Linked DNA regions of Homo sapiens: region 1 is linked to region 2. The links come from fine-mapping of genetic effects on gene expression. Tissue or cell type: lung. Region 2 holds a variant in brackets; the other region holds the start of a gene. All regions are shown on one strand. Distances are between the middles of the regions.

Region 1 (4,253 bases), 79 kb before region 2:
AAAGTATCATTTGATAGACATCCAAACCGGATACCTAAGGCATCACTCTTTTTGGATTAAAGATGTTTATTGGTCCTTGTGAGGTGTGAGAATTGAGTCCAGTCCAAATTACTCATCTCTAAGACATTTCATTTGAAATATATTGGTGACATTTTGTCTTTTGATTAAACAAACAGAAACAGTAACTTCCTAAGCAAAGAGCCAAATAACTAACTTACTTTCCTGGTCCAGTTGTAGCTAGGACATCTTATATCTGTGCAATGCTTTTTGCACTATGATGGTGTATGTACCACGATGTCGCTCTTTCTTTCTTTCTTTCTTTCTTTCTTTTTTGAGATGGAGTTTCACTTTTGTTACCCAGGCTGGAGTGCAATGGCGCTATCTCGGCTCACTTCAACCTCCACCTCCGGGGTTCAAACGATTCTCCTGCCTCAGCCTCCCTCGTAGCTGGGATTACAGGCACCCACCACCATGCCTGGCTAATTTTTGTATTTTTAGTAGAGACAGAGTTTCACCATGTTGACCAGGCTGGTCTTGAACTTCTGACCTCAGGTGATCTGCCTGCCTTGGCCTCCCAAAGTGATGGGATTACAGGCATGAGCCACTGCACCTGGCCAACTCTTTCAAGAAGAAGAAACATTTTAAGACCATAACTAGTCCTTGTACCTCATATAATGTGATCTCATTGTGCCATATATTCTCAGTGTGTAAACTTTTGTAGGGCCAAAGAAAAAACTTCCCTTTTGTCCTCTGAAGGTTTGGTGAAAATCAACTGACAAAAGGCAGATAAATAGAAGAAAAGGATTTTATTTGATCATAGTTTTATGTGACTTGGGAGCCTTCAGAATGAAGACCCAAAGGTATAAGGGGACAGTCCATTTTATGCTTAGTTTCAACAGCATATGGACAGCTGTGTAGAATATGGTTGGACAAAGAGGGTATAACCTAATGCTATTAGACTGGGGAAATCCAGTAAGACCTGTCTGCTTAGATTCTTCTTGGCCTCTCTCCATAGGACCCTCTTTGGAATGGGGGTCTTATGACCTAAACTCAGACAGGGTGAGTCATATAATTTCTTCGTGGTCAGATTTTACATAGAAACACAGGGAGAATGCTAGAGTAATATCTATCTATCTATCTATCTATCTATCTATCTATCTATCTATCTATCTATCTATATCTCTCTCTCTATATATATATATTTTTTTTTTGAGACGGAGGCTCCCTCTGTCGCCCAGGCTGGAGTGCAGTGGCGCGATCTCCACTCACTGGAAGCTCCACCTCCCAGGTTCATGCCATTCTCCTGCCTCAGCCTCCCGAGTAGCTGGGACTGCAGGTGCCAGCCACCACACCCGGCTAATTTTTTTGTGTTTTTAATAGAAACGGGGCTTCACCGTGTTAGCCAGGACGGTCTCGATCTCCTGACCTCGTGATCCGCCTGCCTTGGCCTCCCAAAGTGGTGGGATTACAGGCGTGAGCCACCTTGCCTGGCCTAGAGTAGTATTTTTATGTTTTATGGCTGGCTTTATAAAAAAGGGGTCCTGATTTCTGGGACCTGATTTGGGAAAGAGGAATTCTAGCTTCTATGACTAGTCTGGGGAAGAATGTGGGACCAGAGACAGGAGACCAAAAGGAGTCAGAGGAAAATTTTTCCTTCTAAGGCTGCTTCTGAGGCCTTCATTGTGGGGTATCATTTTCTGAACCCCAAAACTTTGAACTCAGTGTGTTTCACTCTCTGCTCTTGCTGTGTGACCTGAGGACAAATCACTTAACTACTCTGAGCCTCAGTTTCCTCATCTGTCTGACAAAGCTAATCATACCTTTTTCAAGAAACTGTTAAAACTTTAAGGAAAATAATGCATATAAAAACACATTTCGGCCAGGCGTGGTGGCTCATGCCTGTAATCTTTGGGAGGCCGAGGTAGGCGGATCACTTGAGTCCAGGAGTTTGAGACCAGCCTGAGCAACATGGTGAAACCCCGTCTCTACAAGATACAAAAATTAGCCGGGCGTTGTGGCAGGCGTCTGTAATCCCAGCTACTCAGGAGGCTGAGGCATGAGAATCGCTTGAATCCAAGAGGCGGACGTTGCAGTGAGCCGAGATCGCGCCATTGCACTTCAGCCCGGGCGACAAAAGTGAAATTCCGTCTCAAAAAAACAAAACAATAAAACCCCACACAATTGCTTGAAGCATAGTAAGTCCTCAATAAATAGTATGTAAGTAAATTATCAAGAATTGGGCAGTTGGTTCTGGTTATCAGTTTATTTTTTTTTAATCTAGTATAGGTTTACCAGCTTTAGGTTAGCACCTAAAAGCTGCATAATCGGAATCATATCTGCAATCTGGGTTTTGTCAAAATAGTACTATAGAATAAATGGGAGAAAGAAGAAAGCAAGCTAAATGGGAAACCGTGAATGAATGGAGGACGAAAGAAGAAAAAGGCAAAGTAAAGAGAGAAGTAATGTTTAAAAACTGAGAGATGAAAAGACAAGCAGGAGAAAAGAACCAGAAGCTAGAATGAAGAGGCAGTATCCCATGCTCCAGCGCGGGTCAGGACCCGGCCCGGCCTGGCAGAGGCTCGCAGGGCGCAGCTCGGGGCGGGGCCCAGCAAAGCAACCACGCCCCCTCAGGAATGGAGTTTTTAAGGGCGGAACTTCCTGTTGCGAGTAGCCCCTCTACCTCCGGAAGAGACGAGTGCGGTAACACCGTTCACAGAGCTAGCCGGACGTCCTCCGACTCAAGGTGAGACCGTTATTTTCCTCACCGCACCCTCCGGGTTCAGCGGGCGCTGTGGGTTTCCAGGGAGGCCCCTTCCCTCCTCAGGAGCGGGCGCGAGCGCCGTGCGCGGTCGGCGCCTAGGGTGGAGGCAGCCTCTGGGTGACCCCTGCCTGCTGCGTTATCCGGAGCTGCCCTGGGCGACCGGGAACAGTTCCGGCATTGGAGTAGCGGTTCGCTCACGCGACCTCACTTAACCTCTGTGGCGGCTTCTGTGGAATAATTGCCCCTTTTTATGTCCCCAACTCCGAAAAGCTCCTAGAAACTTGGTGCATCCCCAGGCCCAGGTAGTCACTCTAAGTGATGGGGCAGCGCCCAGGTCCTGTGCTGCCCGCAGTCGCGGTGCTGGGACAGGTGGCAAAAAGGAAGGTGGCCTGGCTCCTACGCTGGAAGGCTGTGACCAGGACAGAAACAGCAGGAAACAGTTCAGGTGTTTATGGCTTTGGGAAAATGAAAGTGAGTAAACTACGGACCCTGCCCATCAATAAATGTACTGTGATTTATATATATATAACTATTCATATATTATATATAACTATATATAAAAATATATATAAAATGTACTTATATACTTTATATATAGTACATAAATATACTTATGTATAGTATATATACTTATATATAGTACATAAATATACTTCTGTATACTTATATATAGTACATAAATATACTTACGTATATATACTTATATATAGTACAGAAATATACTTACGTATATATACTTATATATAGTACAGAAATATACTTAGGTATATATACTTATATATAGTACAGAAATATACTTAGGTATACATACTTATATATAGTACCTAAATATACTTAGGTATATATACTTATATATAGTACATAAATATACTTACATATATACTTACATATAGTATATAAATATACTATATGTATAGTACATAAATATACTATGTATAGTATATATACTATATATACTATATATAGTATCTATACTTATGTATAGTATATATAGTATCTAAATATACTTATGTATAGTATATATAGTATCTAAATATACTTATGTATAGTATATATAGTATCTAAATATACTTATGTATAGTATATATACTATATATAGTATCTAAATATACTTAATGTATACTATATATAGTATCTAAATATACTTATTTATAGTATATATATCTAAATATACTTATGTATAGTATATATACTATATATAGTATCTAAATATACTTACGTATAGTATATATAGTATCTAAATATACTTATGTATAGTATATATACTATACATAGTATCTAAATATACTTATGTATAGTATATATACTATACATAGTATCTAAATATACTTATGTATAGTATATATACTATACATAGTATCTAAATATACTTATGTATAGTATATATACTACACATAGATACTATGTATAGTATATATACTCCACATAGTATCTAAATATACTTATGTGTAGTATATATACTCCACATAGTATCTAAATATACTTATGTGTA
Region 2 (4,253 bases):
AAAGCAAAAGAGAGAGAGCCTCTGTCAAATAGCTACAGAACCTCCCAGAATGATGTCCTTGAGGGAAGGGCAATAAACTTATTGCTACAGTGTGCTGTCTTGAAGCAAGGACTGTAACCATGGGCTATAAAATGGTTATGTTAGTCATAAAAGAGCTGCAAGAGGTTTACAATTTTAACCTTTAATTTTGCTGTTGGATAAAGTAAAAACTAATTTTTACTTCAGGATTTTTTCAGAAGTGTAACCAGGGAAATATTACCAAGGAGAAGTTCTGACATTGATTTAAGATCTTTTGCATTCAGCTGCTTCTTTAGTTTAGCAATGTGATTTCAGAGTTACTTATACAAAACAATGAAACTAAAGGGAGTCATAATCTGAATGAATGCTTTAAACAAGCAGAAACAGTCTAATAGGTTCCTGACTAGGAACAAATATTTTTAAGACAACAATTATTGTGGCTCAATTTCCTTTAATTTTTCAAAATTTAATTAGATGAAATGTACCTGGTATATATTTTCTGGCATCATCTTTTGAGAATAATTTTGTCATAAACATAGCTACTTTTTATTATGTATCTTTTATATGGCAGGCACTCTTTTGGTGCTTTACAAATATTATTTGTAGTTATTGTAACAGTGATCTAAGGCAAATTGGTATCCCTATTTGATGACAAGAAAGCTAAAACTCAAAGAAGAAACTTGGTCCAGATTTGTTTTTTTGTTTTTTGTGATGGAGTTTCACTCTTGTTGCTCAGGCTGGAGTGCAGTGGTGTGATCTCGGCTCACTGCAACCTCCACCTCCTGGGTTCAAGCAATTCTCCTGCCTCAGCCTCCCAAGTAGCTGGGATTACAGGCATGTGCCACCACACTAGGCTAATTTTGTATTTTTAGTAGAGACAGGGTTTCACCATGTTGGCCAGGCTGATCTCAAACACCTGACCTCAGGTGATCCACTCTCCTTGGCCTCCCAAAGTGCTGGGATTACAGGCATAAGCCACCATGCCTGGCCCAGATTAGGGTTTTTAAGCAGCTGAGCATGGAACAAACTCAACTCTTTGTGACCCCAAACATAGGCTTTTTTATGATATACCCTATTAGCTGTATAGGAGGATCAGATTAAGATAGGATTCAGAAGGCACATTGTAGAATCTATACCATAGCCTTAATTACCTGGTAATATAAGTAATCTCTTTGGTAATATTTGCTCACAAAATATATGCTCTAGCTGACTACAAGACTCCTTGCCTGAGATCCCATGATGTGCATTAGAAGTGATGGAAGCACCACTAGTTGCTATCACTGTTGTTCTGCTAGCCTAGGATTCTCTGAATAGAATACTAAGGGATTACTTGTAGAAGATCTTGGTCTTTGCTTTCTATAATATGAGATATCAGCTATCACATATCTCATATGAAAAGGGGAGAAACACATCTTTCTTTATAACTGAAAAAATGCCACAAAAGCTAATTTGATTTCATGCATTTGGGAAACAAACATCTTGGAAATTTATTGCACCTCCTAGTTCTTTCTTAAATTAGATGTGCAGCAAAAACATAGGCAGGAAAAAATTCCAAATCAAAGACATTATATCATTCTAATCCTTTTTTTAAAAAGTCCCTTTGAGATGAAGGATGTACTTAGGTGCAATATTTTTTACAATACAATACAAAATAAATACCACATTTGTAATCAATTTATCATTACTTTTTAAAAAAATAAACTGGGAAAGATCTTGGTAAATAGAACCCACTGCTTTATTTCCAGAGCTTTAAACAGTCACAAAAGGAGTTTGAATAGAAACCATTTGCAATTAACTTGCAGACATAATGATCTTTTTCTTCTAAAAACACATTTCAGTGTGTATTTCTTTAATAAAAAGGAACATTGTCTAACACAGCCACAGCACAATTATAAAAGTCAGGAAATTAACATTGATACATAATCTAATATAAAGACTTTATTCAAATTTTGAAAAAAATTTTAACCCAATGTCCAATCCAGACTCATACATTGATTGCATTTAGTTCTCATTTCTCTTCAGTTTCCTTTAATTTATAACTTGCTTGGTCTTTCTTTATCTTTTATGACCTTGACATTTTTCAAAAGTATAGGCCAATTATTTCGTGGTCTATCTCTTGATTTGAATTTGTCTAGTTTATTTATGATTACATTTGGATTATGAATTTTTGGCAGGAATGTCACAGAAGTAATGTTCTGTACTTCTCAGTGCATCATATCAGGAGGCACATGGTATCTTTTTGTCCTATTATGGGTGATATTAACTTTGATTACTTGGTAATGGTAGATAGATCATTGTAAAAATGCTATTTTTTCCTCACTGTACTTATTATATATCTTGTGGAGAGATACTTTGATACCAAAAATATCAAACTTTTACCCATTAATTTTAACATTTATTGATGATTTTTTTTTTTGAGATGGAGTCTTGCTCTGTTGCCCAGGCTGGAGTGTAGTGGCTCGATCTTGGCTCACTGCAAGCTCTGCCTCCCAGGTTCACGCCATTCTTCTGCCTCAGCCTCCTGAGTAGCTGGGACTACAGG[T/C]GCCCGCAACAACGCCTGGCTAATTCTTTTTAATATATATTTTTAGTAGAGATGGGGTTTCACCGTGTTAGCCAGGATGGTCTCGGTCTCCTGACCTTGTGATCTGCCCACCTTGGCCTCCCAAAGTGCTGGGATTACAGGTGTGAGCCACCACGCCCGGCTGATGATTCTTTACTGAATAAGTTATTACTATAATTGCTATCAAGTAGTATCTTACTTATTCTTACTTATATCTTACACATTCATCTTACCTTGCTGTATTTTCAAGGAAGAGGTGCTATGAGAGGAAAAACCTGTAGTAATCTTTCAAGAGAGGCCTAGGTTTGTGCAGAACCCAGGTGGGTTGCAATCCCTTTAGGTCTAGATATGATGCACATCCAGTTGGGAATGATCAATATCATGATACTTTATGCTCCCTAGAGATTATTGTGCATTGTGTATGTGTGCATGTGTGTGTGTATCTGTGTAAAATAAGCTGTGGTTGCCTTGGGTTTAAAAAAATATGAATATATTTGCATGCTGTTATAGTAGAATTATAGCATTATTTTTAGGGCTTTTTTTCTGCAAAATTATTGCTTTCATGTTTATCTTATTAAATTATTGCTTTGTGAGGATTAGTTTTGGGATTTATATAGTATATCACGATAACTGGATTTTATATATTTTTATTTTAAGATTAAATACCATCTTTTTTTACATTTATTCTCTAGATTGGTTCAACTTATCTCAATCAACATTCAAACTGAAGTTAGGAGGAATACCTTACTTGAAAGGTTATTTTTTCAATCTGCCATTTTTGAATACTATTTTTGAGGATCCAGAGTGTTGGAACAGCAGCTACTAATATGTGCATTGCGGCAAGTGGAGGAGCAGAGGCATTTTATGAAATGGGAATTCACTGCTGGGATATTGCAGTAGCTGCCATTATTGTTACTGAAGCTGGTGGCGTGCTAATGGATGTTACTGGTAAAATTATGAGATAGTGAATCATTTTTCCCTTTACATCTCTTGGACTTTCCTCTGTATATGGAGTTTAAAAAAAGTTTGATACATATGATAGCTTGGATTTTAAGACAAACAGGCTATATAATTTTGTGCAAAATCAAAATAAACATTAGGAGATAGAGGCAAGGATGAGAACTAATGGCAATATGGGACTGATAGTGATAAATGGCTAAGCCTTTTCAAATGTGAGTAATAGGAACTCCTGAAAGGCTGTTGAGAAAGCCTAGAGAGTCACTGACTCTGAGGCTTGTATTTAGAGTTCTTTGAATGCTGACCATTGTGATAGTTGATGATTGACTTCAGTCCTCCACCATCACCTTCTGTGTTGGGACTAGAGAAGTTAAATATTTGCTTTGAGCTGATGGTGAAATTTTTGAAGTGAAGAGTGAACCTGGGTTCAAAGAATTCACCAGTGATCTGAGAGAAAGGCAACAAAGAAATAAGGAAATGGGAAGGATAGTGGTATGAAAATTAATTGGAGTCACATTTTCTGTCCATAGATTCTTAAACAGTAAAGAGGTAATAACAGTGTATATACACACACACACACACAAACAAAGAAATAGAGAATAGATGACATTTTCAGACTAGCATGACTTGAGACTCCCTCTCTCCCCCACCAACCTTGCCAGTAAATACCAAAAAACTGGTATTTTAAAAAACATATACTTAGAAACTCAGCTATGGA

The links. PIP is the estimated chance that this variant, and not a neighbour inherited with it, causes the effect. A credible set is the group of variants that fine-mapping cannot tell apart.
Region 1: IMPA1 starts here. The variant in region 2 is the best candidate, but not a certain one, in a credible set for the expression of IMPA1 in lung (TOPMed, PIP 0.56).

What each region holds. Positions count from the first base shown.
Region 1 is chr8:81,684,742-81,688,994 of GRCh38, reverse strand. IMPA1 (inositol monophosphatase 1) reads left to right here and starts at 2,670. Exons shown (of 9, transcript NM_005536.4): 1 at 2,670-2,743. RefSeq lists an enhancer at 2,424-2,924.
Region 2 is chr8:81,605,844-81,610,096 of GRCh38, reverse strand. It overlaps the pseudogene IMPA1P1. Among named protein-coding and RNA genes, the nearest start is that of FABP12, 74 kb to the right of the region's middle. The variant T/C (reference allele first, on the strand shown) is at 2,561.